Homo sapiens: one gene and its partners. The gene in region 2 interacts genetically with the main gene of each other region. Each region holds a gene or a part of one and is shown on either strand. Other genes may lie near its edges. The genes, in order: KIF14, NSMCE1, FASN and PTTG1.

Region 1 (7,824 bases), on a different chromosome or scaffold from region 2:
GACTTACCACAAAATCGCTCTTAAATTCTTTTTTTTTTTTTTTTTTTGAGATGGAGTTTCACTCTTGTCGCCCAGGCTGGAGTGCAATGTGGCCATCTCAGCTCACTGCAACCTCCGCCTCCCGGGTTCAAGCGATTCTCTTGCCTACGCCTCCTGAGTAGCTGGGATTACAGGCGCGTGCCACCACGCTTGGTTAATTTTTGTATTTTTAGTAGAGACGGGGTTTCACCTTGTTGGTCAGGCTTGTCTCGAATTTCTGACCTCAGGTGATCCACCCACCCCCGGCCTCCTAAAGCGCTGGGATTACAGGCGTGAGCCACCGTGCTCGGCTAAATTCTTTAAAAAACCTATGATTCTCTGAGTTTAGGACCATTCAGCAACAGGAAATATGCAGTTTCCAGTTGCCATTTGCTTAATCAAAAGTTTACCCCTGAATTCTGTCTTGAATAAGTCAGCGATTCTCTGGTGGTTCTCCTGTATGTTCGAGTGTAGTGTGTGTTTTTTGTTTGGTTTTTTGTTTGTTTGACAGTCTCCCTTGGTCTCCCAGGCTGGAGTGCAGTGGCGCAATCTTGGCTCACTGCAACCTCTGCCTCCCAGGTTCAAGCAATTCTCATGCCTCAGCCTCCCGAATAGCTGGGATTATAGGCATGCACTGCCATGCCTGTTTATTATTGTTTTTTTTAGACAGAGTCTCGCTCTATCACCCAGGCTGGAGTACAGTGGCGTGATCTAGGCTCACTGCAACCTCTACCTCCTGGGTTCAAGCCATTCTCCTGCCTCAGCCTCCTGTGTAGCTAGGATTACAGGCGTGCCATGCGCCACCATGCCGGCTAACTTTTGTGTTTTTAATAGTGTTGGGGTTTCACCACGTTGGCCGGGCTGGTCTCAAATTCCTGGCCTCAAGTGATTCACCCTCCTCAGCCTCCCAAAGTGTTGGGATTACAGGCATAAGCCACTGCACCCGACTTGAGTTTAGTGTGTTTAGAGGTCTTTGGCATCGAGAAAATATAATGTTATGAACAACTGGGATCCAACAAGTTGGGCCTTTCAAAAGTCCATGAGGCAATCTAATCTTTTTCAGGTTGCTATGGCTTAACACCAACAGCATACCTAGCATTAAGTAAATAATTATTAGAATGAATGAATGAACCTAGCTATCAGATACTAAAACAAACTAAATGGCCATGCTCCACATCTAAAAATCCCATAAACTAATATTGGCTAAAGGAAGAAAGATGGAAAAGCTCAGTCTTGATTATATCATGCAATGACTGTAACTTGCAAAATCCAGAGCACAAACTTACCTGATGAATCATGCACAGGAAGCTGGGCACATAAGCTTTTTTTTAACTGAACCAAACTACTGATACCTTTTCCCCTCACCTGTGATTAATTCTTACTTTCCATATTTAGGGAAAACCTTGAAATGCTTATTGGCACATAGTTAGGCTCTGTAAACTCAAGTATGCTAGTTAGCTAACTAGACAAAACAGCCTTTTGCTAAAACTTTCAGATGGACTGACTCCATGGAGGACACATAGCACATTATACCTTAAGAGCAGTAAGATAATGTTTAGTTATCTTTATTGTCCATTTATTATCATGGAACAAAATGACGGCAGATATATTTTCAGGTATGCCATAAAGGACTGCAATACAATTTGGCACATTGGCAGAATGTTATAAATGGCATATGCCTGCACCAAGTGTGATCTTATATACATAACAAGGGTTTTGTAGCTGGTAATGAAAAGGACAGAAAATAAATTCACTAACAGTCTACTACTTGCCAGCAGTTATTCCCACATTTTTCTCACTAAGTGCTCATAGATAGATAGTCCATGAGGTGGGTATTACTTTTCTTTCTGCAGATGAAGGAATGGGAGTGAAGACAGTAACATGTCTAAGGTCATGTAGTTACTAAGCAGTCCAGCTGGGATTCACACTCCAAACGTGTGAAAAATATGTCAAACTCCAAAGCTCATGCTCTTTACACATACCACATGGTGATAAATCTATTCCAGGCATAATCAACTAAAGAGAGGCAGAACAATGTTAAAAAAAAATAGTTGTTATGGCAATATTAATATTTGTTTAGTGTTTCCTAATTATTAACTTGATTTGCAACACTAGCCTAGCTATTATCAAGGCAGAGCTATTCTGAATGAAGAGTAAAATAAACAAAGAAAATCAGTAAAATAAAAAAGCATAGACCACGAAGCAATTCTAATGCTGAAAAGATTTATTAAAGGCATTCTCTTTATAACATTTCTTGTCAGTGCACATAATTCCAATAGCAAATATTTTTTCACCATTCATTCAAATACAGTATCACAATGTGTTTAGTATAAATATGTATACAAAATTTTATAAAGACACTAAAAAGTTTCTGACCAATTAAGTCATGAGTTTACAAAGCACAAACTGAAGATTAAATACTGAATATTAAGATGAAAACTACTATACAGGTACTTTAGGAAGTTCTTCAAAGAAGTGCACCTCCCGGGAAATCCTCATATGTACATCTACACTCCAGCAAACTGCACAGGCAAAGTGCTACTTGCCAGATTATTGACTAATAAAAACACATATAGAGCTTCAGAAAGAATACAAGGTCAAATGCCAAAAATAAAAAAAGAAATGAAAGCAAATGTGCTACATTGTACCATTTTAAAGAGCTTGAAAACACCACACAAGGTTCACTAATACTGTTCTGACTGCAATGACTGTATTTACTTACAATCTCTTCCTAACAAGGAAACTATCAGATTTATTCATGGTACGAATGGCCAATTTCAACTAGTTATGCCAAATGTACAAGTAGTATCTGTAAATTCGAAAAGGGCAAATGAAAGGATCAGGTTATTTAAATGAATTCTTCTTTTTTTTTCTTCTTTTTTTTTAAATGAATTATTCTTTAGGAACTGCTCAATATCACCCAAGCATAGTTACAAAGTATCTCTTCAAATTATACATACTCTTGAGGTCAAAAACGTCAAACTATTTCCGTAATGTAAGATCCCACAAGTAGAATATTATCTTTATTACTTGATCATAAATAAAGGTTTTTTTTTAAAGCTGTGGAAAATAAGGGTCTTTAATCTTCATCAAATCATATACAAATTATTTCATTATACCTTTAACAAAACAAGCATTATCAAGAGAAGGTCCAGCCTCTGATCTCCTAATCTCATCCAACAGTTTAGTATAATTCTGGCAACATTTTATTAGTTTTAAATAATATTCATACAGCCCCCATTATGAAACACAGATAACAGGGTAAACTACTGTGCCAGCAAGCCATATTATTAATATATAATTATACTATATTTAGGTAGCTACTTATAATTTGGAAAGAAACAGGAAGCTACACCCTTGAACATACTATTCAAAATGGCAACCAGTTAACCCTTTGAGAAAAGAATTTTTGATTAACAATGCAAGTTAAGTTGTCTTAGTTAAACTTGTACAGGCCATTTCACCATAAACATCCCAGCTGTCTGAGGAGAGAGAAGGCATAGGCACAAAGGTAACTGATTGTTCAGGTTTCCACTCATGAGAAAATAACCCTTTATAAACGACTAATGAACCAACTACAGACAGTATACCAATGTTAAACACTTTAAAGATAAAAATATATTTTATTTATTTATTTATTTATTTATTTATTTATTTATTTATTTATTTTGACTAAGTCTCGTTCTGTTGCTCAGACTGGAGTAAAGTGGCATGATCTTGGCTCACTGCAACCTCTGCCTCTCAGGTTCAAGCGATCCTCCTGCCTCAGCCCCCCTAGTAGCTGGGATTACAGGCACGCGCCACCATGCCCAGCAAATTTTTGTATTTTTAGTAGAGACGGGGTTTCGCCATGTTGGCCAGGCCGGTCTCAAACTCCTGACCTTGTGATCTGCCCGCCTCCCAAAGTGCTGGGATTACAGGCGTGAGCCACTGTGTCTGGCCTTTGATAAATAGATATTTTAAAGATAAAAAGACATGGACTTTTTTGAAATATCTGTGCTGATTTCTCTTAAACTCTCCTGCATAAAGAAAATTACCGAGCAAGTGTTCTTTTTCTTTCATGGGTGGTCATAAAAGTGCCTACACATCAGTATTCACACCCACTGAATCCTACTGGGTGTGCATTCCTCTGAGCTCACTGCTGGGGATGAGCCATGGAGCTCATAGACACGCTTTGGTACACCTTTATTCTTACTGCCGTCAATCCCGCTTGATTTAGATTGTTGGTGTTCTTCTTTGGTATTTTGATTATAAGTTTCCCAGGGTTTCAACAAATCAGGGCTTTCTTCAGATTCAAAACAAAAGAGGAGAGACTTAGCTAGAGATTCTAGTTCCTGGTGGACAATGTGAGTTACTCTACTCTCATAGCTGCCAACAGAAGTAGAAGGCACACTGAAGTCACTGTAAAAATCACTGGCCAAGTTGCGAATACTTTCAACACAAGTCTGGAGAAGATTTATATCACTATGGCATCCTATATGCAAGAGAGGAGGGAAAAGTTAATTAGCCTTTTCAGTTTTCATCAGGTATTTATGACTTTTATAGACTCTAGATATCTTTTAAGTCAAAGTGACCCTATCAAAACAATTCCAAACTACTTAAGATTAGTCAACTAAAGTGTTTATTTGCTAGATGAGCACTTGGTTTTTCAGGATCTAATTATTTAGGTAGAAGTACTGATACATACATTAAGTGGGAATTTAATTATAAATACAAGTTCCTATATGGGTAACTAATATCAGTGAAGTAGCATTGGGTAGGCTTCAGTTAATGACTAAAATAATGAAAAGGTTAGAAATAAAAAGGAAAGATGTCAGCCGGGGACTGTGGCTCATGCCTGTAATCCCAGCACTTTGGGAGGCCAAGGTGGGTGAATTGTTTGAGGTCAGGAGTTCGAGACCAGCCTGGCCAACATGGTGAAACCCCATCTCTACTAAAAATACAAAAATTATCCAGGCATGGTGGCATATGCCTGTAATCCCAGCTACTTGGGAGGCTGAGGCAGGAGAATCGCTTGAACCCAGGAGTCGGAGGTTGCAGTGAGCTGAAATCGAGCCACTGCACTCCAGCCTGAGTGACAGAGCGAGACTCCATCTCAAAAAAAAAAAGGAAAGATGTCTAAGGTTCCTTAAAATATAAAATTCTGATTATAAACTCCATTTGGAGAATCATACCTTTCAGTGCAGAAATAATAATTTCAATAGCTTTCTCTAAGCAATGTTTTAACTTTAAGAATTCTGGAGCACGATTAACCATCCTCTTGAAATCTTGGTATTCAAAGTTTTCTTCTTGTACTTGCCTTCTGAAACTTTTCTGTATAAATAAAGTTAATATTTAAAATAATACATTAACAGGCTCAATGGCAGTAAGGCTCAGTCAATATGATTTTAATTGCCAGAATCTTCTCTTTAAGAAAGAGAGTTTAATTTCCTCACCAGTGCTTAACTCTATTTCTATAAGCAAGACCAAAATACAATAGTAATTACTGTTTTCAAAAGAAATCAGAATTTTCAATTAATTTTCAAAGTCTGTCATCCTATTACATGAGAATGGAATAAAGTAACAGTGCCATTTATTATTCAATACTTTAAAAGATACATTTATTTCATTTTTAAGAGCTCAACTTTATAATAGTTCTCATTTATTTAAATAAAAATTTTCAAGCCATAGCAATTACTCTCCTTTTTAACACATTGATCATATACTTAATTTTTCTCTTTACCTGTGACATGGGAATAATCTATCTAATTCAACTGTATTTTAAAATCTTTGAGCACAATGATTATTAAACACAATTTTTTAGCCTATAATGACCCATCCAAGCAAAAGCTGACAGTTATTAAACCAGTAGCAATAAGAAACAGACATATTAATAAATTTCTATACAATCCTTTATCCACTACTAGAACTAGTAAGTTATGACACACATAAAAAAGACAAAGAGCTATCTTACATGCTACAATTAGACATATACAAAAGAGTTGTCTCTGGCTAAGGATAAACACTGAAATAAAAATATCTACATTTGAACCAAGTGAAATGATAAAAAATAAGCAAAATTAAAATCAATTTAAAGCTTCTCTTACAATTTTCGATTCAGCAAAGATGTTTTCAAGAGATCTAATCAATCCCATGGCATTAGTTTTCATTTCTTTGGTAACCTATAGAGAATGTTAAAATATTTTATTATACTTTATTATTCAGAAGTACAAAAATCATAGAATTGCATGGGACCAGACTTTTAAAAAATTCTAGTCTAGAAGCCCAAAGATTGGAGCTCTATTTCTGGGATTGCAATTAAATAGCTTGAGAGTACTTAAATCATACATGTGAAATTTCTTCAAAAATAAATTGCACATTGACTTCTTTCCAAATAAGTTTATTTCACTTTTAAGAGTTCAACTTTATAATCTCTCTCATTTATTTTATTTACATAAAAAATTTCAAGCTATAGCAATTACTCTCCTTTTAAACACATTGATCATATACTTAGTCTGTATTTTCTATTTACCTGTGACATGGGAAAATAATCAGTCTAATTCACCTGTATTCATTAATAATTTCTTTCAAAATAAATTGCACATTGATTTCTATATTAAATATGGACACCCTCTAATATTTGTTATAACAAATTTTGTGTTATACTTAAATATTTATAGATACAAAATTTCTAAATTTCCCTTGGAAGGGGGTAAGTAACATATCAAGCAAATACTATACTCTAAAAACTTTACAAATGTTTTGTTATTTGATTCTCCATTATAGTCCTATGCTGCCCATTGTATACCTCATTTTATAGGTAAGGAAACAGACCTTGGTTCCTAACTCCTAAGACTGAGAACTAGAGTGGGAGCCCACATCTAAATTCTAAGCCTTTGCTTTTATTCTATCCAATGCTGCCCCCTAAGGTGCTTTCCTGCTCAATTTCTGCCAGGGGATTCTTTTTCAGTGTTTAATTGGCTTTACTCACAGAGAGCTTCCCTAGCCCTAATTCAGATTTGCTCTATGTGGTTTAAAAAAAAACAAAATTCCAAAAGAATATCCAAATTATTTTTCCTTCCTGACTCCAGCTTTAAAATTGTAGCTCCATGCCTTTTATGTTTCAGCTCATTTTCTATTTCTTTGGATATTTTATTCTTCTATAGGTTCTTAAAGGAGTTTTAACTTACAAGAATAGATAAACTAAAACCCTACCATGAACAACAAAGTACAGGTTTGTCATACTATAGAAAGAAAATGAGAGAAAGGAGGGTATGCAGATAGGGTCAATTGTATACAGGATGGGCCTGGCCCTTTTGCTGCTTATTTCCTCAAAACAATACCAAGGCTAACACCTGCACCTACTTCAACAGCTTACTAAACACATTCCCACATATTATTTCATCTATATTTTTCATTAATTTATTCTATACCCTTCTGCACTTATTGCCAGCAGAAATTCTTTGCAATAGTGATAGACTGCAAAAGTGGTATCACTTTGCAAATATGGTGAAGTGTTTTAGTGATAAATGGTGCTGCTGCTGAGCAAAACCAAATTTGAGACGTCAGTGGTGGTCTGAATGAGCCTTTGACAGCCCAATATATCCCTTTCTTCAAAGTTGCACTATGGAACTGAAATCAGCCTCATGCCTATTTGAGCGCAAGCTTGATTTAGTGACAATATGAGCTCCTAAATTTAGTAACAATGTGTTTTTACTTTTATTTTTTATTTATTTATTTATTTATTTTTGAGACAGAGTCTTGCTCTGTTGCCAGGCTGGAGTGCAGTGGCACGATCTTGGCTCACTGCAACATCCACCTCCCAGG
Region 2 (7,211 bases):
TGTTTCAGTTCTTTTTCCACAAAAGGCACCCCTGTTTTCAACAGCTCAGTGTTTGCCGAGTTGACCACAGCTGTGCCTCCCAGGTGCTTGTGCCCATGTGTGTTGAGGACGCACTCACGCCGGGTCCCCGCTTCCTCACTTGGTGGTCGGACTCGTGGCCAGAGGCTGCTGCTTGTGGCTGCAGCGATTCTCCGCTTCCTTTTCAGGAAGGCTCGCGTCTGGGTTGGGGAAGTCTGTGTTCTGAGTTACTGATTTCTATTTAGGGTGGGCCTGTCCCAGGAACCTGACCCGAATTCAGTTCCTGGGGTACCTGATGGGAAGACAGGGTGGAGAGGTCATGGGGTGAGGGCAGGGCTGGGAGCTCCTGGTGAGTGCAGGATCTGCTGGGCGCGTTCCCGTATGTCATGTCTTGGAGGCTGTCTGCTGCCCTGCAGTGGCTCCATAGCTTAGTTTTTAGCTGACAGCTCAGGGGTCTGGATGACGTCGGACACCCTGAGAGTGGCAGGGCCGAGTTCAGGCCCCGGTTTGGGGACTGCAGCTCCCATCAATGGCTTTGTCACAGTTGTTCTTGCCCTCCAGGCTGTATTTGGCACTAGGGAATGTTCTAGGGCTACTCAGGTTATAACTGACCATTCTCGCTTGTGGTGCAGCCCCTCTTCAGGCCAATTTTTTTTTTTTTTTTAAGATGGAGTTTTGCTCTTGTTGCCCAGGCTGGAGTGCAATGGTGCAATCTTGGCTCACCGCAACCTCAACCTCCCGGATTCAAGCGATTCTCCTGCCTCAGCCTCCCAAGTAGCTGGAATCACAAGCATGCGCCATCACACCCGGCTAATTTTTCTATTTTTAGTAGAGACGGGGTTCCTCCATGTTGACCAGGCTGGTCTCGAACTCCTGACCTCAGGTGATCCGCCTGCCTCAGCCTCCCAAAGTGCTGGGATGACAGGCGTGAGCCAGCGTGCCCGGCCACAGGCCAAGTTTTTTAAGGGTAGGGGTTATGACCTCTTCATGGCTGGTCCCCATTGCAGAATGTAGTGCCTGGCACCTCAACTGCTCAATAAATGCTTGCTGAATGGATGACTGGACAGGTGGATGAGGTTGCAGAGGAACAGCATTTAAAACTTACAAAAAATGTTACAGGAAATATCTGCTCATTACAGGAGGATTAGAACATGTTGAGATGCATAAAGAAACCCACTGAAGTCACCTGTTATCCCAGACCCTAGAGCCGAGTGCCCCAACATCCCAGTACACAACACTTTGCACCCTGCTTTGCACCCAAGAGCACCATGCCTAGCACATGCTGCCACCATTGTGCATGGCTTGCAGGGCGTGCCCCCAGCTTTATGGTTTGACTTGCCCTTTGTCTGCCCTTGGTGTCTGGAGAGGGCGGTGGTGGATAGGAGAGGCCCCGCCCTGGAGTCTGTGGCGGTGAGCTGTGGCTGCAGGCGCTTGTACTCTGTGCCTTTCTCAGTTCGGTGGCAGTGCTGGCACCACCTTCTGCAGGGCGCCTCTGAGCTCGAGGGAGGGTGGACAGAGGATCCGGGAGCTGCCACCTGCAGGAGCGCTGCAGAAGTAGCAGGGGGCCCTCAGCACTGGCGCTGGGCAGTAGCCCTAGAGAGGCTTCTTGTTGACTGCCTGGCCTGCTGGGGCCCTCAGGAGGACGAAGGAACGAAGCTAATGTGGCAGGGGCTGTGTGGTGAGACTCCTCCAGGTTCCTCCGCTGCCTGTGGTGAGCAGCTTCTCGTTGCGGAGACTGTTTCCTCATCTGCAGGATGGGGACATTGCCAGCTCCAGGTGTTTTCTGTGAGGGTCCAGTGCTCTCTGACCTACATGGCCTGGTAAGGGTTGCCTTGAGGTCTGCGGCACTCTGGAGGAATCACTGAGAACCGGGGCGGGTGCTCACTTACCCAGGACAGGTCTTCCTAGGGCAGCACCTCGATCAGAGAGACCACATGTCAGTGTCTGATCCTTGGCCTCTCAGACACAGGGCTTCCCACAGAAATAGCCAGGGGCCCACTGACAAGGCCCTTCCAGGTGGGTATATCACCCCAAGGACACGTCACTCCTGGACAGCCAGTCCTGTGTGAGACTGGCCCGGCATGGAGGTGCTGAGGCAGCTGTCCGTCCAGGAGAAGGCCCAGGGGTGGTAGGTGGTTGGGGTCAGCGGGGAGGCCTCTGAGAGCAAGCGCGGCTCATGGGAGCTGGGCGTCTGCTGATCGGCGCACCTCCATACACCCCAGGACTGCTCCCTACACGAGGTCCTGACTTCCAAGTGTTGTGGCGAGGCGCCTGGGAGATCACCTGGGCTGTCGTCGTCTTTGAGGGCTAGGGCATCCCTCCTGCCCCTCCCCTGATGGGCCCTCAGAGGACTGAGTGGGTCATGAATGGTGAGCCTTGGGTGCAGTTTCAGGCACATAGCAGGTGTTCAGTAAATGCAGCTTGGCTGGGTGCAGTGGCTCAAACCTGTAATTCCAGCATTTTGGGAGGCCAAGGCGGGTAGATCACTTGAAGTCAGGAGTTTGAGACCAGCCTGGCCGATATGGTGAAACCCTGTCTCTACTAAAAATATAAAAAAGTTAGCTGGGTGTGGTGGCGGGCATCTGTAATCCCAGGTACTCGGGAAGCTGAGGCAGAAGAATCGCTTGAACCCTGGAAGCAGAGGTTGCAGTGAGCTGAGATCGTGCCATTGCATGATCTAGCCTGGGCAACAAGAGCGAAACTCTGTCTCAAATAAATAAATAAAAAATAAATGCAGCTCCTGCCTCAGTCTGAGCTTGAACTTGCTTAGTGTCAGGCATTCCTTTGGGATCAGTGCAAGGTCTACTTCATCTTCCCGTGGGTGTTTATCACAGGCCTGCCAAGTGCTGGGCCCCACAGCAGGTGCTGCGGACACAGGAGTGAGCACAGCCAGAGCTGGTGGCCGCTCCCATGGGGCCATGGTCTGGAGGGGGAGCCCGAGATCAGTGAGACGGTCATCTCACTGCAGTCCTGGTACAGATGGAAAGGAAACATGGCTTTATGACAGCTGTCCCAGAGGAACCGGCCCTCAGCTGCTGAGGAAGTGACACTTGAGCTGAAGGCTGTGTGGGAGTTGCCTGGAGCCTGGGGTGGGAGGATCATCAGCCCGGCAGTGGCCCTGTGGCCAGCAGGTGCACTCAAGAAGCTAAGGCCAGGGCCATCTGAGCACAAAGATTGCGAGGCGAGCAGACGGAGGGCAGCCCGGGAGATACGCGTATTAGGGGCTTGGCTCTTGGACCTAAGGGTGGTGGGAAGCCCTGGGGTGGGGGTGAGTTGGGAGTGACAGGGCCAGGCTTGTTCGGTAGCGAGTGCGTTGCTGGAGGAGAGTGGGCTCAGAGAGCAGCAGGAGCAGGGGAGGGTGGAAGAGGGTGGAGGCCGGGGAGGTGGGTTGCCATGATGGATCTGTAGGGGAGGGTGGAAGAGGGCGGTGGCCGGGGATGTGGGGTACCATGATGCATCTGGAGGGGAGGGCGGAAGAGGGCGGTGGTTGGGGGTGTGGGGTGCCATGATGGATCTGGAGGGGAGGGTGGAAGAGGGTGAGGGCTGGAGAGGTGGAGTACCATGATGGATCTGGAGGGGAGGGTGGAAGAGGGTGGTGGCTGGGGATGTGGGGTGCTGTGATGGATCTGGAGGGGAGGGTGGAAGAGGGTGGGGGCTGGAGAGGTGGGGTACCATGATGGATCTGGAGGGGAGGGTGGAAGAGGGTGGTGGCTGGGGATGTGGGGTGCTGTGATGGATCTGGAGGGGAGGGTGGAAGAGGGTGGGGGCCAAGGAGGTGGGGTGCCGTGATGGATCTGGAGGGGAGGCTGGAAGAGGGCGGTGGCCAGGGAGGTGGGGTGCCATGATGGATTTGGGAGCTTTGGGGGAAGGTAACAGCCATAGGACTGAGGACCGAGGACAGCCTGGGGGCTGGTCACATCCTCCCATTGCCCACAGCACTTGGATGACACAAAGCCCCTGTGCACCAGCAACAGCTGCGGTGCAGGGCACAAGCACCTGGTGCCCCGGCCTCCCTCCACTGTTCCCGCAGCGGCTGTCCATGCCCCAACCCCACGCTTCTGCCCTGCCTTCCTTCCTGTGCTCACCCAGCTCCTCTACTGGTGTTCCAGAGCGAACGCACTGTGAGCCCAGATTACGCAAGCACACCCCTCCACATTGCACTGTGGGGATGAAGGTGGGAATGGGGTGGGGGGCTCTACCTGTCAGAAACGGGAGTGGGCTGGGTGCGGTGACTCACGCCTGCAATCCCAGCACTTTGGAAGGCCGAGGTGGGCGGATCACCTGAGGTCGGGAGTTCAAGACCAGCCTGGCTAACATGGTGAAACCCTGTCTCTACTAAAAATACAAAATTAGCCAGGCGTGGTGGCGCATGCCTGTAATCCCAGCTACTCAGGAGGCTGAGGCAGGAGAATTGCTTGAACCCGGGATGCGGAAGTTGCATTGAGCCAAGATTGTGCCATTGCATTCCACCCTGGGCAACAAGAGCAAAACTCCATCTCAAAAAAAAAAAAAAAAAAAGAAAAGAAAAGAAACGGGAGTGACAGCTCTTGCTTGTAAAAATTAAAAATTAGAAAATAACAGAAAAGGCAGTTGAGCACTCGGGTGACTTGCAGGCGTCAGTGACGTCATCTCCTGGTGTGGTTCATATCCGATGCATGAGCTGACTGTGGAGAAACTGGAATCAGCCTGCATGGGTCCATGTCCTGGGTCCCGTGTCATTTGCCTGCCTTGGGTCTCCCTCAGTGCTGCCTTTCTCCTGTGACCTGGCAGTAGGGTCGGCCTGGGGAGCTGCATTGTTCTTGTGCTTCCGGGCTCTCCCAGGGATTTCAGGATGCATGATGGGTGGACCGCACCCTGGCATGGGAACCAGGAGGCCTGGCTTCCACTGGAGGCTCCACTGCCCACAGTGTGATGGGGCCTGTCTGCCCTCTCCAGACTCCTTCCAGCTCCATCTGTAAAGTGATGTGGCTGGAAGTGATCTCTGAGGGTCCCTACTGCAGTTGGAGGCAGAAGTGCTGGGAGGCAGAAGTGCTGGGAGGCACCAGGGATGCTGCTTTTTGGGAGTGGGATGGGTGGCGGATGGCAGCAGTGGGTGTTTGGGTTTGCACCCTGGGGAGACTGACCCCCTTGTGGGCCTCAGCGTCCTCATCTGCAGGAGGGCTGTGACTGCCTCCCTCGAGGCTGCCGTGCAGACAGAGAAGTCACGTCTGAAGGCACAGCAGATGCTGAGAAAAGGCGGGTGTCAGGGAGCCACGCCTCCATGTCTTTAGGGTCTTTGCCTCAGTTTCCCTTGCCGAGGCTCTGCCAGGGGGATGTGGCTGATGCCCGTTGGCTGGGGTTGGTGAAAAGCTGCGTAGACCCTTGTGTCTTCCTGAGCACTGGGCTGTGGGATCACAGAGGGAAGAGAGGTGGTGAATGGGGAGAGGGCCTGGCTGAGGGTGGCCACCTCCTGTGTGTCCCTGCAGAAGGAAGGGGAGTTCACCCTGCACGGCCGGGCCATCCTGGAGATGGAGCAATACATCCGGGAGACGTACCCCGACGCGGTGAAGATCTGCAATATCTGTCACAGCCTCCTCATCCAGGTACCCGCAGGGCAGGGCACGGGAGCTCATCACTGGGCCCTCGGCTCCCGGGGCTCTGTACAGGTACTTCCCGGAATCCTGGCTCTGGGCCCAGCCCTCCTGCACTGCTGGCGCATCCTCCCACAAGAGCTGGCGGAGGCCATCTCCCAGGACGTGTCAGGACGCCTCCCTGCTGTGCCCCGCAGGGACGCACTGCCGCCCTCCTCCCTGGTTCTGCTGTTGGGGTCCAAGGGCCCTCGCTTACTTTATTTTTCTCAGGAAGGCTGAGTGTTCTGTGCAACCTGCATCATCTTGGTAGTTTTGTAGTGAGTGTCTCTTGTCGATTGCTGCTTTCTGGAGTGGTCTTAACACTGGTTTGCAGGGCTTTGCAACCGCTGAACCAGCGTGGACATTGATGTGTCTTTCAGTTTCTATCGTTTTGCAGCTGTAGCTGTTTGTAATTGCAATTGCTCTTACGGGCCTCGTACACCTGTATCCTTGGGCACCTGGTGATTATTTCCTTGGGCGGAGTTTCTGGGACAAAGTGCACTTTTTTTTTGAAAGCTTTTGATTCACATTAGCAAATAAGCTTCTGAAAAGCTGTGGCTGTCCACACGCCACCTGCAGGATCTGAGTGCAGGAGTTTGGGAGCCCTCGGCTTCTGTCACTGCGTTCATGTGTTCAGAATTGTTTAGTAAAACCCACCGCAACAAGCAGCAAGCAAACAAAAGACTCCACTGCACTAAGGCGTTTGGGATTATTTTCAATATTAATCTGGGGCCCAGAAGATAACACGATGCCACCTGCTGCCCATTTCCCTTGTGGCTTCCCCGGAGGTTTGCAGAACATGGAGGTGTGCACCAGCTCCGCCGTCATTGGCCTTTCCTGTTTCAGGGTCAAAGCTGCGAAACCTGTGGGATCAGGATGCACTTACCCTGCGTGGCCAAGTACTTCCAGTCGAATGCTGAACCGCGCTGCCCCCACTGCAACGACTACTGGCCCCACGAGATCCCAAGTGCGTGGGCCCTGAGGAGCTCATGGGAGGGGCTGGGCCAGCAGGACGTGGGGCCTGGTGCCAGGGAAGCCCTTGGAGACAGGGCCCTGAAGGGCTCCAGGGTGTGTGGGGGTCCGTGTTAGCAGCTTGAATCCTAGAAGAAGCCACTGCAGGAAGTAAAGGCTGAGCTACGTGCACCGCTCCAGAGGACTTTCTAGAACCCAGCTGAAATTCCAACGTGTATGAGCATTTTGTCTAGACAAGGCTCTCTCTCTGGCAGCCCTCTCAGGAGGGGGACGTGAAAGCTATGTCCACAGCTCCCTCAGTTTGTTCCTCTCTGAACTGGGGCTAACTCTGCCTTCCTCACGGGCTGGGGAGGGTTAGCAGTGAAGGATGGTGTAGACCTAGGACAGTCCTTGGCACAGGAGACGTAGCTGCTGGCTCCAGCTGGTGCCCCTGTGCTGCCAGCCCCTCCATTCACTGTGTCTTTCCTGCCTTTTCTGTCTACAGAAGTCTTCGACCCTGAGAAGGAGAGGGAGTCTGGTGTCTTGAAATCGAACAAAAAGTCCCTGCGGTCCAGGCAGCATTAGCCATCGTGCCCTGCTGAGGGGCTGGCTGCCTTGAGTGGCCTGATCGCC
Region 3 (7,572 bases), on a different chromosome or scaffold from region 2:
GTGCCTGGTGCCCTCCCCTGGGCCCGCCTGCCCCCTCCGCCTCGTTCCCTCTGTGACCTGGTTCCTGTTCCAGGCCTCACCTGGGCTGGCTGCTGGCCACAGGCTCTGTTCTGGCCCCTCTGCAGGACACCTCACCCTCCTTAGGCCCCTTCCAGGGTCCCACTGGGATGGACCCCCCCTCACCCCAAGCCAGTGAGGCCAAGATGGGACCTTCGCCCCAGAGCCGGGTGGGTGGGTGGGCTGGCTGCGCTGTGGGGCCCGGCCGTGGCACCTTGACCACTGTTTGTGGCAGGCATCAACCCAGATTCACTCCGAGGAACACACACTGGCGTCTGGGTGGGCGTGAGCGGCTCTGAGACCTCGGAGGCCCTGAGCCGAGACCCCGAGACACTCGTGGGCTACAGCATGGTGGGCTGCCAGCGAGCGATGATGGCCAACCGGCTCTCCTTCTTCTTCGACTTCAGAGGTGGGTCCTGCCCAGCCTCCTGCGGAGGTGGGTGGCCTTCAGGTCCCCACATGCTGAGCAGAAACCACGTGGCGTGGGCTCACTCCGTGCAGTGTGTGTCCAGCCTGGTGGCAGGAGGTGTGCTCAGGGGTCTCGTGTGCTCACAGCCCCACCTGAGCCGCAGCACCCTTCCTTGCAGGGCCCAGCATCGCACTGGACACAGCCTGCTCCTCCAGCCTGATGGCCCTGCAGAACGCCTACCAGGCCATCCACAGCGGGCAGTGCCCTGCCGCCATCGTGGGGGGCATCAATGTCCTGCTGAAGCCCAACACCTCCGTGCAGTTCTTGAGGCTGGGGATGCTCAGCCCCGAGGGCACCTGCAAGGCCTTCGACACAGCGGGTGAGTGTGCGGCTGCGCGGCCAGGGCAGGCGGGACAGTGGCACAGGACGGCCCCCCGCACAGTCCCCACGCTGAGCAGGATCCTGCCAGCTCCGGGGATCCCCCACCCAAGCACCCACCCCACACCCCAGAGCTCCTCCTGGTGGGGTGGGGGCCGGCGTGGGGCTGAGCCCCGGGCCTGAGGTGCTGCTCTACCCAGGGAATGGGTACTGCCGCTCGGAGGGTGTGGTGGCCGTCCTGCTGACCAAGAAGTCCCTGGCCCGGCGGGTGTACGCCACCATCCTGAACGCCGGCACCAATACAGATGGCTTCAAGGAGCAAGGTGGGCTCTGCCGGGGTTCCGGGGTGCTGGGGGGCAGGTGGGAGCCGGGGCTGGGGCTGCAGCACTGAGCCGAGCCCTCCGCAGGCGTGACCTTCCCCTCAGGGGATATCCAGGAGCAGCTCATCCGCTCGTTGTACCAGTCGGCCGGAGTGGCCCCTGAGTCATTTGAATACATCGAAGCCCACGGCACAGGCACCAAGGTGATGCCCCCCCCCCCCGCCCCACTCACCACCCCATGAGCCTAACCTACGCCCATGCCTGGAGAGGTGACCTGGCCAGAGCCCCTCACCCCCCATGTTTCCCACAGGTGGGCGACCCCCAGGAGCTGAATGGCATCACCCGAGCCCTGTGCGCCACCCGCCAGGAGCCGCTGCTCATCGGCTCCACCAAGTCCAACATGGGGCACCCGGAGCCAGCCTCGGGGCTGGCAGCCCTGGCCAAGGTAGGTGGGGCTGGGCTTGGGGGTCCCTCAGGCTCCTGCTCCCTGGGACTGGGTTGCGCCATGGCTGGGCACTGCTGCTTTCTCTTTGCCAAGTGGAGGCGGGGGCTTCCCCACCAGGAGCCTCTGTCCCCCGGGCTATGCTGCAGGTCTGAGCAGAGGCACTGAGGCTGACAGCAGGGAGAGCTCGTAGCCAGGCTCGCTGGGCCTTCCCTGGAGGCCTGATGCCCTGCAGAGCGTCTGCCGGACACGGAGCCGAGCTGGAGGAGCCGCTTGGGTGGGAAGAGCGAGGCAGGAGCAGGCCTGGGGGGGTCCACGGCACCATCAGGGTCTCCCGTGTCGCCCACCCGTCCCTACAGCTTCCTGACCCACTAGCAGAGGCCTGGGGACCTTTAGAGAGACCAGGCACAGGAGCCCCAACACCCATGATCACTCACGCCCTCTGCCCCCCAACTTCTGCAGCCTCTGAGATGCAACATCTGGGCCAAGGGGGCCTTAGTGTTCAGGCCACAGCCAGGCTTTGGTGGGTCCACATCAGGCTGGGAGGCAGCAAGGCCGGAAGGGGAGGTCTTGGACCAAGCTGAGGGCAGGGCCATGGCGGCTCAGTCCTCGGACCCCTGTGCCATGGCAGAATTAGGTTGGGGACAGGAAGTGCATCGGAGAGGGCCCTGGAACCCTGGCCCCACATGAGAGTCTCGGGGAGGTGCCTGCCCCCAGCTCAGGCAGTGGTAGAGGGAGTGGGGCGGCTGCCCATCCACCACGTACCCCCGCAGGTGCTGCTGTCCCTGGAGCACGGGCTCTGGGCCCCCAACCTGCACTTCCATAGCCCCAACCCTGAGATCCCAGCGCTGTTGGATGGGCGGCTGCAGGTGGTGGACCAGCCCCTGCCCGTCCGTGGCGGCAACGTGGGCATCAACTCCTTTGGCTTCGGGGGCTCCAACGTGCACATCATCCTGAGGCCCAACACGCAGCCGCCCCCCGCACCCGCCCCACATGCCACCCTGCCCCGTCTGCTGCGGGCCAGCGGACGCACCCCTGAGGCCGTGCAGAAGCTGCTGGAGCAGGGCCTCCGGCACAGCCAGGACCTGGCTTTCCTGAGCATGCTGAACGACATCGCGGCTGTCCCCGCCACCGCCATGCCCTTCCGTGGCTACGCTGTGCTGGGTGGTGAGCGCGGTGGCCCAGAGGTGCAGCAGGTGCCCGCTGGCGAGCGCCCGCTCTGGTTCATCTGCTCTGGTGAGCCCACACTCTGCCCCCAAGGTGGTCCCTTCCCTGGGGAAAGGCAGGCGAACTGGAGCTGGTGGTCCCCTGAGGTGCTCTCTGGGACGGGGATGGGCACACAGTGGCACGGGATGGGGCTGAGCCTCGTGACGTGCTCTCTGGGACAGGGATGGGCACACAGTGGCGCGGGATGGGGCTGAGCCTCATGCGCCTGGACCGCTTCCGAGATTCCATCCTACGCTCCGATGAGGCTGTGAAGCCATTCGGCCTGAAGGTGTCACAGCTGCTGCTGAGCACAGACGAGAGCACCTTTGATGACATCGTCCATTCGTTTGTGAGCCTGACTGCCATCCAGGTAGGGCCCAGCCTGCCAGCGTGTGAGCAACGCCAGCCCCAGGGCTCTGGCTTTCCCTGGAGCCCAGGAGCTGCAGTGTTGAGTCCGGGGCCCCTGACAGCCCCTTTGCTAGGCAGAGCCTTGTGCTGGGGGCAGGACGGGAGGGGAGGAGGGGTCTCAGTGGGGCTGTGTGGGGGCCATAGGGGCTTCTTTCCTATCAGGAGACCTGGGAGGGTCGATGGGGCGCGGGGGTGGAGATGGCCTAGTGGGGCCGGGGGCCGCCCCCAACAGCTGCACCTGCTGGAGGTTGCAACCTGAGTGTCCTGTTCCCACCCCAGATAGGCCTCATAGACCTGCTGAGCTGCATGGGGCTGAGGCCAGATGGCATCGTCGGCCACTCCCTGGGGGAGGTGGCCTGTGGCTACGCCGACGGCTGCCTGTCCCAGGAGGAGGCCGTCCTCGCTGCCTACTGGAGGGGACAGTGCATCAAAGAAGCCCATCTCCCGCCGGGCGCCATGGCAGCCGTGGGTAGGTCTCCCGGAGGGGCCCCCAGCACCTCCAAGAAAGGAGGCTGCCTTCTCGCTGTGGGGTCCTCACCTGCAGCCCTGGCCTGGCCCCCGTAGGATAGAGTGGCCCCCGCTGGCCCGGGGACACCCAGCTCGGACACAGCCGTGCGCGAGTCCCCTGCAGCTGCCCCACTGGCCCCACACCTGGCAGCCTTGGGCCTAGGCACGTGTCCATGGGCATCAGGCCTGCGTGGAGCCCCCGTGTGATGAGCACACAGCTGCAGCATAGCAAGAACCCAGGGGCTCTGGTGAAGCCAACACACGGGTCATCAGGGTTCCCTCAGACTGGTGCCCTCTGTTGGCACCCATCTCTGAGCCCCATGGGCCACATGTGGGCAGGACCTGGAAAGAACCTTGGCTGCAGAGGACTGAGGGGGCCACCATCTGGGGACTGGGCTCCCAGGAGCTGCCCCTGGAGTGGCAGCTCTGTAATGACACCTCCACCCACGGGTCAAACACAGCAGGGGGCGAACCTTTCTCATGAAGGCTCCAAGGCTGCCATTACCACACTTGTCATTACTGCCCCCAGCTGCAGGCAGTGTCTGGGTGGGTGGGTGGCTGGGAGCGGCTCGGTGTCCACGCTAAGCCTCTGAGGCTGGCTCTGCCATAGGCTTGTCCTGGGAGGAGTGTAAACAGCGCTGCCCCCCGGGCGTGGTGCCCGCCTGCCACAACTCCAAGGACACAGTCACCATCTCGGGACCTCAGGTGGGTGCTGCGGCCTGGGCGGGCTCCTCTGTCCCCTGCGCCTGCCATTGCAAGTCTGGCAGGGACACGCGGCCACGGTCTACGCCCCACCAAGCTCTGACGGGCCTGGGGCATGGGGCAGGTTTGTCCTCAGGTCCCTTGCCCATTCCCTCTCGGTTCCCTTGGGGTGAGGTGGGTGCGCCCTACCTCTCCGAGCCTGAGGTGGGTGCCCAGCCAGGATGCTTATCCAGGCTCCCACGATGTCCAGGCCCCGGTGTTTGAGTTCGTGGAGCAGCTGAGGAAGGAGGGTGTGTTTGCCAAGGAGGTGCGGACCGGCGGTATGGCCTTCCACTCCTACTTCATGGAGGCCATCGCACCCCCACTGCTGCAGGAGCTCAAGAAGGTGGACTAATACGGCCTGGGGGGTGCGGGGCGGGCCAGGGGACCCACAACCCAGCACTGACCTGGCCCCTCATGCAGGTGATCCGGGAGCCGAAGCCACGTTCAGCCCGCTGGCTCAGCACCTCTATCCCCGAGGCCCAGTGGCACAGCAGCCTGGCACGCACGTCCTCCGCCGAGTACAATGTCAACAACCTGGTGAGCCCTGTGCTGTTCCAGGAGGCCCTGTGGCACGTGCCTGAGCACGCGGTGGTGCTGGAGATCGCGCCCCACGCCCTGCTGCAGGTAGGCCCAGCCTGGGGGCAGCAGGCGCCGGGAGCCTGGGATGGGCGCCTCAGCTGAGCACCAAGAGAGCCCACCTGCCCTGCCGCCCCCAGGCTGTCCTGAAGCGTGGCCTGAAGCCGAGCTGCACCATCATCCCCCTGATGAAGAAGGATCACAGGGACAACCTGGAGTTCTTCCTGGCCGGCATCGGCAGGCTGCACCTCTCAGGGTGGGTCCCTTCCCAGCCCGGGTCTCGTCTCCCGGAGTCGGGGACGGCGTGGGGTGGGTGAGCGGGGCTGCGGGCCCCTCACTGACCCAGGCCGGTGGCAGCAGCCCTGGATGGTCCACCGCAGGCAGTGGGTGGGCTGAACCCAGAGCCCCTGGACCCCGGTGACGGGTGTGCTACCCATGCCTCCCTTCTCCGTAGCATCGACGCCAACCCCAATGCCTTGTTCCCACCTGTGGAGTTCCCAGCTCCCCGAGGAACTCCCCTCATCTCCCCACTCATCAAGTGGGACCACAGCCTGGCCTGGGACGTGCCGGCCGCCGAGGACTTCCCCAACGGTTCAGGTTCCCCCTCAGCCGCCATCTACAACATCGGTGAGCAGGGGCCCGGCGGGTGGGCAGACTCTTCCCTCCCCACAGACGCCCGCTCTGTGCTGAGGCCTGTGCCCTCCCGCAGACACCAGCTCCGAGTCTCCTGACCACTACCTGGTGGACCACACCCTCGACGGTCGCGTCCTCTTCCCCGCCACTGGCTACCTGAGCATAGTGTGGAAGACGCTGGCCCGCGCCCTGGGCCTGGGCGTCGAGCAGCTGCCTGTGGTGTTTGAGGATGTGGTGCTGCACCAGGCCACCATCCTGCCCAAGACTGGTGAGGGGTACCCCAGGACCAAGGCGGGGGTAGCTGGGGGGCGGGTGCTGCCCTCTGATCTCCAACTCTCCCGCTCTGCAGGGACAGTGTCCCTGGAGGTACGGCTCCTGGAGGCCTCCCGTGCCTTCGAGGTGTCAGAGAACGGCAACCTGGTAGTGAGTGGTAAGCAGGGCCGGTGGCACGGGAGCTGCGGAGGCTGTGCCCGCTGGCCATGCCGCCCGTCCTCAGGCCCTTCCGCACCTCCCTTTCCACAGGGAAGGTGTACCAGTGGGATGACCCTGACCCCAGGCTCTTCGACCACCCGGAAAGCCCCACCCCCAACCCCACGGAGCCCCTCTTCCTGGCCCAGGCTGAAGTTTACAAGGAGCTGCGTCTGCGTGGCTACGACTACGGCCCTCATTTCCAGGGCATCCTGGAGGCCAGCCTGGAAGGTGGGTACTGACTACACTGCTGCCCAAGCCACCGGGGAGGGCGGTCGTCATTGTGGGGACCACAGAGGGCACCCACAGCTAGGCATGCAGCTTGGGAGGGAGCAGAGGGGCCCGGTGGGCTCTGGGAGGTGGCCCCAGGGACCTGGGAGTTCCACAGCACCAACCAGGCCCTGTGTGCAGGTGACTCGGGGAGGCTGCTGTGGAAGGATAACTGGGTGAGCTTCATGGACACCATGCTGCAGATGTCCATCCTGGGCTCGGCCAAGCACGGCCTGTACCTGCCCACCCGTGTCACCGCCATCCACATCGACCCTGCCACCCACAGGCAGAAGCTGTACACACTGCAGGACAAGGCCCAAGGTAGCCCCGCCCCAGCCCCAGCCCAGTGCCCCCACCCAAGTATGCCGCACTCACCCAGCCTGTCCCCACAGTGGCTGACGTGGTGGTGAGCAGGTGGCTGAGGGTCACAGTGGCCGGAGGCGTCCACATCTCCGGGCTCCACACTGAGTCGGCCCCGCGGCGGCAGCAGGAGCAGCAGGTGCCCATCCTGGAGAAGTTTTGCTTCACTCCCCACACGGAGGAGGGGTGCCTGTCTGAGCGCGCTGCCCTGCAGGAGGAGCTGCAACTGTGCAAGGGTGAGGTCCCAGCCCTGCTGGCTTCGGACACCTCTGGCGATGAGGAGCGATCGCCTCCCCTCACGTTGACCCCAGACTTGCTTCTCCACGGGGCCCCCTTTGGGGTCAGCAACCCTAGCCCAACCCTCCGGCCGGAGCTCACGATGGCGGCCTCCCTCCCTCCCCCAGCCCCCAGCCTTCCTCGTCCCTGGTCACTGTTCCTCAGTCTTGAAAGGGTACTTGGGGGCAAAGATGACAGATTCAGCCTAAGGTCACACCTTGGCTAGGCACAGAGTAGCCCCTGCAGCTGAATGCGGCCCCTCACTGCGTCCACAGTGGGCAGGAGTCAGCCTCCCAGTGGTGGGCAGCCCCTTCCTCAACCCTCAGCTATTTCTCATCCTGTGGGCAGAGCGGGGTGGTGGCCCCAGAAGGACAGAGTGGGTCTGAGAGCCCATGCCAGGCAGATGCCCTGGGGCTTTGGGAACACCAGGCCTGCCTCCCTCCCTCCCCAGGGCTGGTGCAGGCACTGCAGACCAAGGTGACCCAGCAGGGGCTGAAGATGGTGGTGCCCGGACTGGA
Region 4 (6,265 bases), on a different chromosome or scaffold from region 2:
GGGAATAGGAACAAAGATGTAGAAGACATTGTTCCTGTCTGTAAAAGCTTATCACCTAGAGGAGGTAAGATGTATTCATGAACATTGAATAAGTCCCATTGTGGACAGTCTTTCTCACAAGGCTTTTAGAAGTGAGCTTTATGTCAAGTTGAGCAATGCCTGAGAGTAATTTGGTAGGATTATTTCTTTGGTTTGAAAAATCTACATAAGACAGTGAAGACATGTTTTTCAAATTTCTTCAACCTGCTACATGTATCTGAAGTATTTTCTGTTTTGGAAACAGCTTTTCAAGCTTTAATTTACTCAACCATTTCAGGAGAAGCTACTGTGTGTCAGGCATCCTTAGGTCCTGGACACACTGTTTAACAAGATGGGCCCTGCCTATGGGAGCCCATAATTTGAAGGGAAAGTCAGATGCTGGACAAGTCATCTCACTGTGAGTGAGCCAGAAAAAACAGCATTGTAGGTCAAAGTGGTGCAAAGATCGTGAGGTAGGAAAAGAGACTAAAGTGGTTCTAGGAAAAATACAGGCAGGGTAAAGGAGGATACAGGTGAGGTGTGGGATCAGATCAGGGAGGGCCTTACGGATTTCTGAGCTGGATCTTTTACCCTTTTATTTAGCCAAAGAGGTCATGTAGTTATTTTACTAATTTGCATTCAGATTGTTCTGGCTTTTAGAAACTACAAACATTTCTATGATTAGTATTCTTGAAATGATCTTGTTGTAAGTTTGTGAGTACATCTGGAGGGAAACTTTGAGAAGGATTGCTGAGTTCAAGGGCTTGTGTGATTAAGTTTTAAAATTATAAAATGTGGTGCATCCGTGCTAATAATTACCATTCAGCCATTGAGGAAAATGAGGTAGATTTATGCATATTGATGAAGAATGAAGACCACAATATCCTGTGTTACAGGAAAGAGATATTGCTAAGTGGCCCTTCAAAATAGTGTAAATTGTTAAATCCGTCTACAGTGGATGAAGATGTCTGCTTCCTCCAGGTTCACTATCAATGTTTTAAAACTCTAATCTTTATCAGAAAAGAAATATTTCATTGTTTTAAATTTGTTGTGTGTATGGTGAACATATTTGATTATTGGCCACTTACAGTTTTTCTTTTTTTATTAACTTCCGGTTTGTGTTTTTCTTTGATTAAAGAGCTCTTTGTAGATAAAATTAGCTCCCCTTATATTGCAAACTTCTTTCCTCTGGAGTCTTCTGTCTATGGTTTCCTTTACAATTCAGTGGTTTTAAGTTAAATAGTCACATATCATTCAATTCCTTTTTGACTTCTGGGTTTTACCAGGCTTGTAAAAGAGCAGACTAATTCTTGAGTACTTAGGCTTTAGAGAACTTTCACACCTACGGACAAAGATAAGGAAAACCATGATTTTCTAATCTTTTGAGAAAACAGCTCCTTGAAGAAAATTCAGTGTTAAATCCTACTTTTGTTACTGTACAGAAAAATCACTTTTTAAAAATAATTGCTAAGAAGTAAGGTACTTGGATTTTAAGAATGAATGTTACCTAACACAATGGTTCTCCATTTTTTTTTGTTTTGTTTTAAAGACCCTTTTACACTCTTAGAAATTATTGAAGACCACTTTTGCTTGTGTGATCTGCTCTTTTCTGTATTAGAAATTAAGACTGAGAAACTTAAGATATTTATTCACTAAGTAATCACATTACATTAATGTAAATTTTTTTTTAACATAAAATATTTTTTGTTCTGGAAAAGTTTGGAGAAGAATGGCATGGTTTATATTTTTGAAAATTTGCTTTATTTGGCTTAATACAAGACAACTGGATTCTTATCAAATTCTATATTCACTCTTACATCTGTTAAAATATACGAAGAAAACCTGGCTTCACACAGATACGTTTTTAATAGTCTTTTCAGATAAGTGTGGATAGGTTTTTTTGCCACTACACTAAAACCCACAAGTGGCTGTTTCTGAATATAAAATTGCAATGTGGAATCTGAAACCGTATCAATGAGCATTTTGTATCTTGACAGTAAAATCCATTGGTCTATTTTGCACTTGGAATGTATCTTATATTCTTGCATCTATCTTGCATTGACCATTCAGAAATACTGGTTCACTGAGATATGTAGATACCCACATGTTGAGATGCTTTATTATACAATATCAAAAGCACATTAATACCACAACTGATCTCATCAGAAAAGTCTAAGCACCTGTCAAGCTAATGACTGCAGATAAGTTTTCCAAAATTCCTTTTTTTGGCCAGATGCAGTGGCTCACGCCTGTAATCCCAGCACTTTGGGAGGCAAGGCGGGCGGATCACCTGAGGTCACGAGTTCAAGACCAGCCTGGCCAACATGGTGAAACCCCGTCTGTACTAAAAATACAAAAATTATCCGGGTGTGGTGGGCGCACCTGTAATCCCAGCTGCTTGGGAGACTGAGGCAGGAGAATCGCTTGAACCCAGGAGGCAGAGGTTGCAGTGAACGGAGATTGTGCCACTGCACTGCAGCCTAGGTGAAAGAGTGAGACTCTGTCTCAAAAAAAAAATATTCATTTTTTAATTTTTGACAAAATTTTAACGTTTTATATTCTGCCATTGGCAACAAAGGCTGTCAGTTTTCCTTGAGGTGATAGACTTCTTTCATTCCTTTAAGAAAAAGTGTGACAAGCACCCAGGTCTGAGTGACCATGGGATTTCTTGCAGTTGTTAATTCAAGTAAAAACAGTATTCCAGGAAAATGTTCTCTAGTTTTAGCTTGCAACTCATATAGTTGCACAAATCCTTTTAATCGTATTTTGGTGTACAGTGGAAGTGCTTTATGGCATACTTCTCATTTTATCACACAGAACATTAAAAAGACATCTCAAGGATGGAGAGCTAATAAAATTAATACTTTCTACTGCATATGGTGAAGTGACAGTAAGTGAAACTGGCATTTTTAAACTACAAGCGAAGAAGGATGCAGAACAGAGAGACTGCTAATATGGTTTACTGTCACTGCCTTGATTTGTGTTGAGGCACCAGCAGCTTTCTCCACCGCTGCCTTGGTACCATCATTACAAATGTCAACCCAGTGGAAAAAGGTGTGAATATTGTCTTGAAAATAGTTTTGACCTCATGGACCCCCTCAAAGGGTCTCAGACCACAAGGGATCTACAGCCCACACTAAGAACTGCTGCCCTGACAAAAACGCTTTCTCTCTGTAACAGACTTTGAGAGTTTTGACCTGCCTGAAGAGCACCAGATTGCGCACCTCCCCTTGAGTGGAGTGCCTCTCATGATCCTTGACGAGGAGAGAGAGCTTGAAAAGCTGTTTCAGCTGGGCCCCCCTTCACCTGTGAAGATGCCCTCTCCACCATGGGAATCCAGTAAGTGAGCAAGTGCCCTTCTGGAAGGGCTGCAAACAATTTGTTTCATAACACTTCCATTACCATGGGAAGAGTTGTGCGGGAGGTGAGCCTGTGAGTAATTTCTGTCCTTCAAATGACAAGGATTAGTTTTCAGAAAAATAAACTATTCTCGATTAATATTGCTTTTCAGTCCCAAATGCCCCAGTAAAATTGTTATTCTGGAAACTGGATAGTCTTACTACAGCCAAAAGATTAATTCTCACTTACATCTTCTTAGGCTATAAGTTGAAGCATATATAATAAACTTGCTTGGAATGATGATTCCATGTTATATCCAAAGCTAATATAAGATCAAAACACCTGTGCTGTAGCATAGACTGACAATAACTTCTTACTGCAGAAGGTCTGAGGTCTTCGTTTGAACTGGTAGTCAAAGCCAACATTATGTTTTCTGTTTGTTCTGATGTGGGATAATTTGTCCTAATAAGTTACATTAGTGAGACTGTTAACTCTTACTTTGGTCTCTAAGAACAATAGAGATTCAGATACTTCTAAAACTTACTTCCTAATGAAAGTCAATTCTGGGGCCACAGACACATTCCAAAAAATGTGTCAGGAGGGGATGCAGGTGATTGATTTGACAAAGGGAAAAACATGAATTTTTGATTGACAGCTAATGTCTATGTTGATATGGACAATGACTCAAGGATTTGCAGAAATTTTAATAAGAGATTCCTGTTTTCTAGATCTGTTGCAGTCTCCTTCAAGCATTCTGTCGACCCTGGATGTTGAATTGCCACCTGTTTGCTGTGACATAGATATTTAAATTTCTTAGTGCTTCAGAGTTTGTGTGTATTTGTATTAATAAAGCATTCTTTAACAGATTCTTCCTAGTATTGTGGTTGCTTTTCCATGGAGGTTACTTAAAATAACATGAAAGCTAGCTGAGGTGTTTAACAAAGAGTCTATAATGTGACAATAGAGATTTGTCTGATGTCTAAAAACTTAAATCTTTTTGGTTTAACAGCTTATTTTAGAAGCTGCCACTGTTTTTTCCTGAAAAGTATACCCCTCAATGTGTACTTTATTGACTTTTTGTGGCCATTAACTAGTGACAGTTATTAGATCTCTTAATTAGAAGAGCTACTTCCAACTCATTAAGTATCTATTGCTGGGCATTCTTTATTGCCGGTTCTACTTAGTTTCTAATGACTTTAATACTCAGTATTGAAAGGCTCTAAATCTGAGAATTCAGCCTCCTTGGGATCTTCAATTAGATTCCTTAAAGATCACTGGAGATAATTTACTGATAGTAAGGTCTACACTCCACCTATAGGAAACTGTATTTAGTTGTTTACCTTGTGTTGGACATGAGTATTTGAGAAGCATTATTATGTTTAATGTTTGACACTTTCCCAGGTAAGACAATGAAGCGCAGAAGTTCATTGATTTGTCAAAGATGTGAAGAGCTAGAAAATTATTAGAGCTGGTATTTTGATCTCAGTTCTGAGGTTGGAATCAAAATAGAGATGGCAAATGGTTGCTCATAGGTTTTCTTTTTGAGGGAGGGGGTGGATATTTTAAAAACCTTAATCATTTCCACTATTTAAAATTCCAGTGTTTCACCAATCTGGCTTTGGAGATTCTCTTGAAAAGAGATGTGTCCATAGTAGACCCTGTTTCCAACACTTGCTGGGGCTGGAGGTAGATTGCAGGCTGCTGCCTTTTAGGTGGAGTATAGGCTTTCTATCCCACAGACCCTGCCTTAAATGGCCTCAGTGAGAACTGAAGTGATCCTTTTACCTTTCATGTCTCTTCTGAGACCTAGCCTACTTAACTCACTTTACTCGCTTGGGCCATGTAGTAACCTGAATTTGACCCTTGCTTGATGCTAAGTTATATAAGAAGTCTTTCCCTTGATATATCAGTAGCTTCTATGGTCAAGTTAGAATGTGAACACTTTGCCATTGTCATTGGAGGAAGCTGAAGGATATTAGGCATGAAATACTAAGAACACCTACAACCGCTTATCCTGACTTTAAAACTTTTTACCTTCTAAATACAACTGAATCAGTGTGACTTTCTGGAATTAGTGGAAAGGCAGACTTCTAGGAGAAGATAATACCATAAGACTACTAGGGCACTTGGCTTTAGGGGAGAGTAATAGGTTTAGCATCCTCAGGTAAAATAGGGCTGCTAAGAAAACCAAAGTATAGGTTGGACACAGTGGCTCACACCAGTAATCCCAGCACTTGAGAGTTTGAGGTGGGAGGACTGCTTGATCCCAGGAGCTTGGGTTCAACCTGGGCCATGTAGTGAGACCCTTGTCTCTCAAAAATTAAAAATAATTAGCCGGGTGTGGTGGCGCATGCCTGTAGTCCTAGTTTCAGGAGGTTGAGGCAGGAGGATTGCTTGAGCCCAGGAGTTCAAGCTTACAACTTGAGTGGCTATAGTCATGCCACTGGGTGGTAAAGTGGGTGGTAGAGTAGCCTGGGTGGTAGAGTGAGATGCTGTCTCACAAAAACAACAAAAAAAGCAAAGTGTAGTTCTGAATGGCTTTCATACTCTGCAACACAAACTGAAGCTTTGGAAAATTGTCTTTTGTGGTAGAGGGAACCAAGGGCTGGGAGCAAGGGGACTAGTCAGTCCCTTACCAGTTAATTGCCGTCCTCTGGGTCAGAACTGAGTATAGAGGGATCTGATCTTTTCATCTGCTGTTAATCAGATTGCAATGTGCATAATGTGTGCTGAGACTGAGAACTTTAAGCAGATGCTCCTCCATTAATACAGATAATTTGCATCTTGTGGGGGTTGTTGCTATTTTGTTCTGACACTTTTTGAAATAAGACAGACTTTATTCATACCTTTACAACTCTGTAAACCTTCTGCATTTCTCTACACTACCTCTGAGCCTGCCTCTCAGGAT

The links.
Region 1: changes in NSMCE1 (region 2) and KIF14 together harm fitness more than expected from each alone (negative genetic interaction), as found in Homo sapiens cells (one large-scale study listed by BioGRID).
Region 3: changes in NSMCE1 (region 2) and FASN together harm fitness more than expected from each alone (negative genetic interaction), as found in Homo sapiens cells (one large-scale study listed by BioGRID).
Region 4: changes in NSMCE1 (region 2) and PTTG1 together harm fitness more than expected from each alone (negative genetic interaction), as found in Homo sapiens cells (one large-scale study listed by BioGRID).

What each region holds. Positions count from the first base shown.
Region 1 is NC_000001.11:200,549,276-200,557,099, forward strand, and holds the end of KIF14 (kinesin-like protein KIF14), read right to left. Parts: intron 6,180-7,824; coding exon 6,105-6,179; intron 5,332-6,104; coding exon 5,193-5,331; intron 4,493-5,192; coding exon 4,113-4,492; 3' UTR 2,225-4,112; downstream 1-2,224. UniProt on the Homo sapiens protein: Microtubule motor protein that binds to microtubules with high affinity through each tubulin heterodimer and has an ATPase activity. Plays a role in many processes like cell division, cytokinesis and also in cell proliferation and apoptosis.
Region 2 is NC_000016.10:27,225,109-27,232,319, reverse strand, and holds part of NSMCE1 (non-structural maintenance of chromosomes element 1 homolog), read left to right. Parts: intron 1-5,483; coding exon 5,484-5,600; intron 5,601-6,473; coding exon 6,474-6,594; intron 6,595-7,083; coding exon 7,084-7,163; 3' UTR 7,164-7,211. UniProt on the Homo sapiens protein: RING-type zinc finger-containing E3 ubiquitin ligase that assembles with melanoma antigen protein (MAGE) to catalyze the direct transfer of ubiquitin from E2 ubiquitin-conjugating enzyme to a specific substrate.
Region 3 is NC_000017.11:82,086,492-82,094,063, reverse strand, and holds part of FASN (fatty acid synthase), read left to right. Parts: intron 1-292; coding exon 293-466; intron 467-644; coding exon 645-845; intron 846-1,044; coding exon 1,045-1,167; intron 1,168-1,251; coding exon 1,252-1,367; intron 1,368-1,474; coding exon 1,475-1,609; intron 1,610-2,379; coding exon 2,380-2,842; intron 2,843-2,994; coding exon 2,995-3,182; intron 3,183-3,499; coding exon 3,500-3,689; intron 3,690-3,923; exon of another isoform or gene 3,924-4,104; intron 4,105-4,337; coding exon 4,338-4,432; intron 4,433-4,679; coding exon 4,680-4,814; intron 4,815-4,891; coding exon 4,892-5,095; intron 5,096-5,187; coding exon 5,188-5,303; intron 5,304-5,501; coding exon 5,502-5,674; intron 5,675-5,756; coding exon 5,757-5,948; intron 5,949-6,029; coding exon 6,030-6,110; intron 6,111-6,202; coding exon 6,203-6,379; intron 6,380-6,559; coding exon 6,560-6,739; intron 6,740-6,810; coding exon 6,811-7,014; intron 7,015-7,505; coding exon 7,506-7,572. UniProt on the Homo sapiens protein: Fatty acid synthetase is a multifunctional enzyme that catalyzes the de novo biosynthesis of long-chain saturated fatty acids starting from acetyl-CoA and malonyl-CoA in the presence of NADPH.
Region 4 is NC_000005.10:160,424,517-160,430,781, forward strand, and holds the end of PTTG1 (securin), read left to right. Parts: intron 1-3,198; coding exon 3,199-3,357; intron 3,358-4,085; coding exon 4,086-4,165; 3' UTR 4,166-4,223; downstream 4,224-6,265. UniProt on the Homo sapiens protein: Regulatory protein, which plays a central role in chromosome stability, in the p53/TP53 pathway, and DNA repair. Probably acts by blocking the action of key proteins.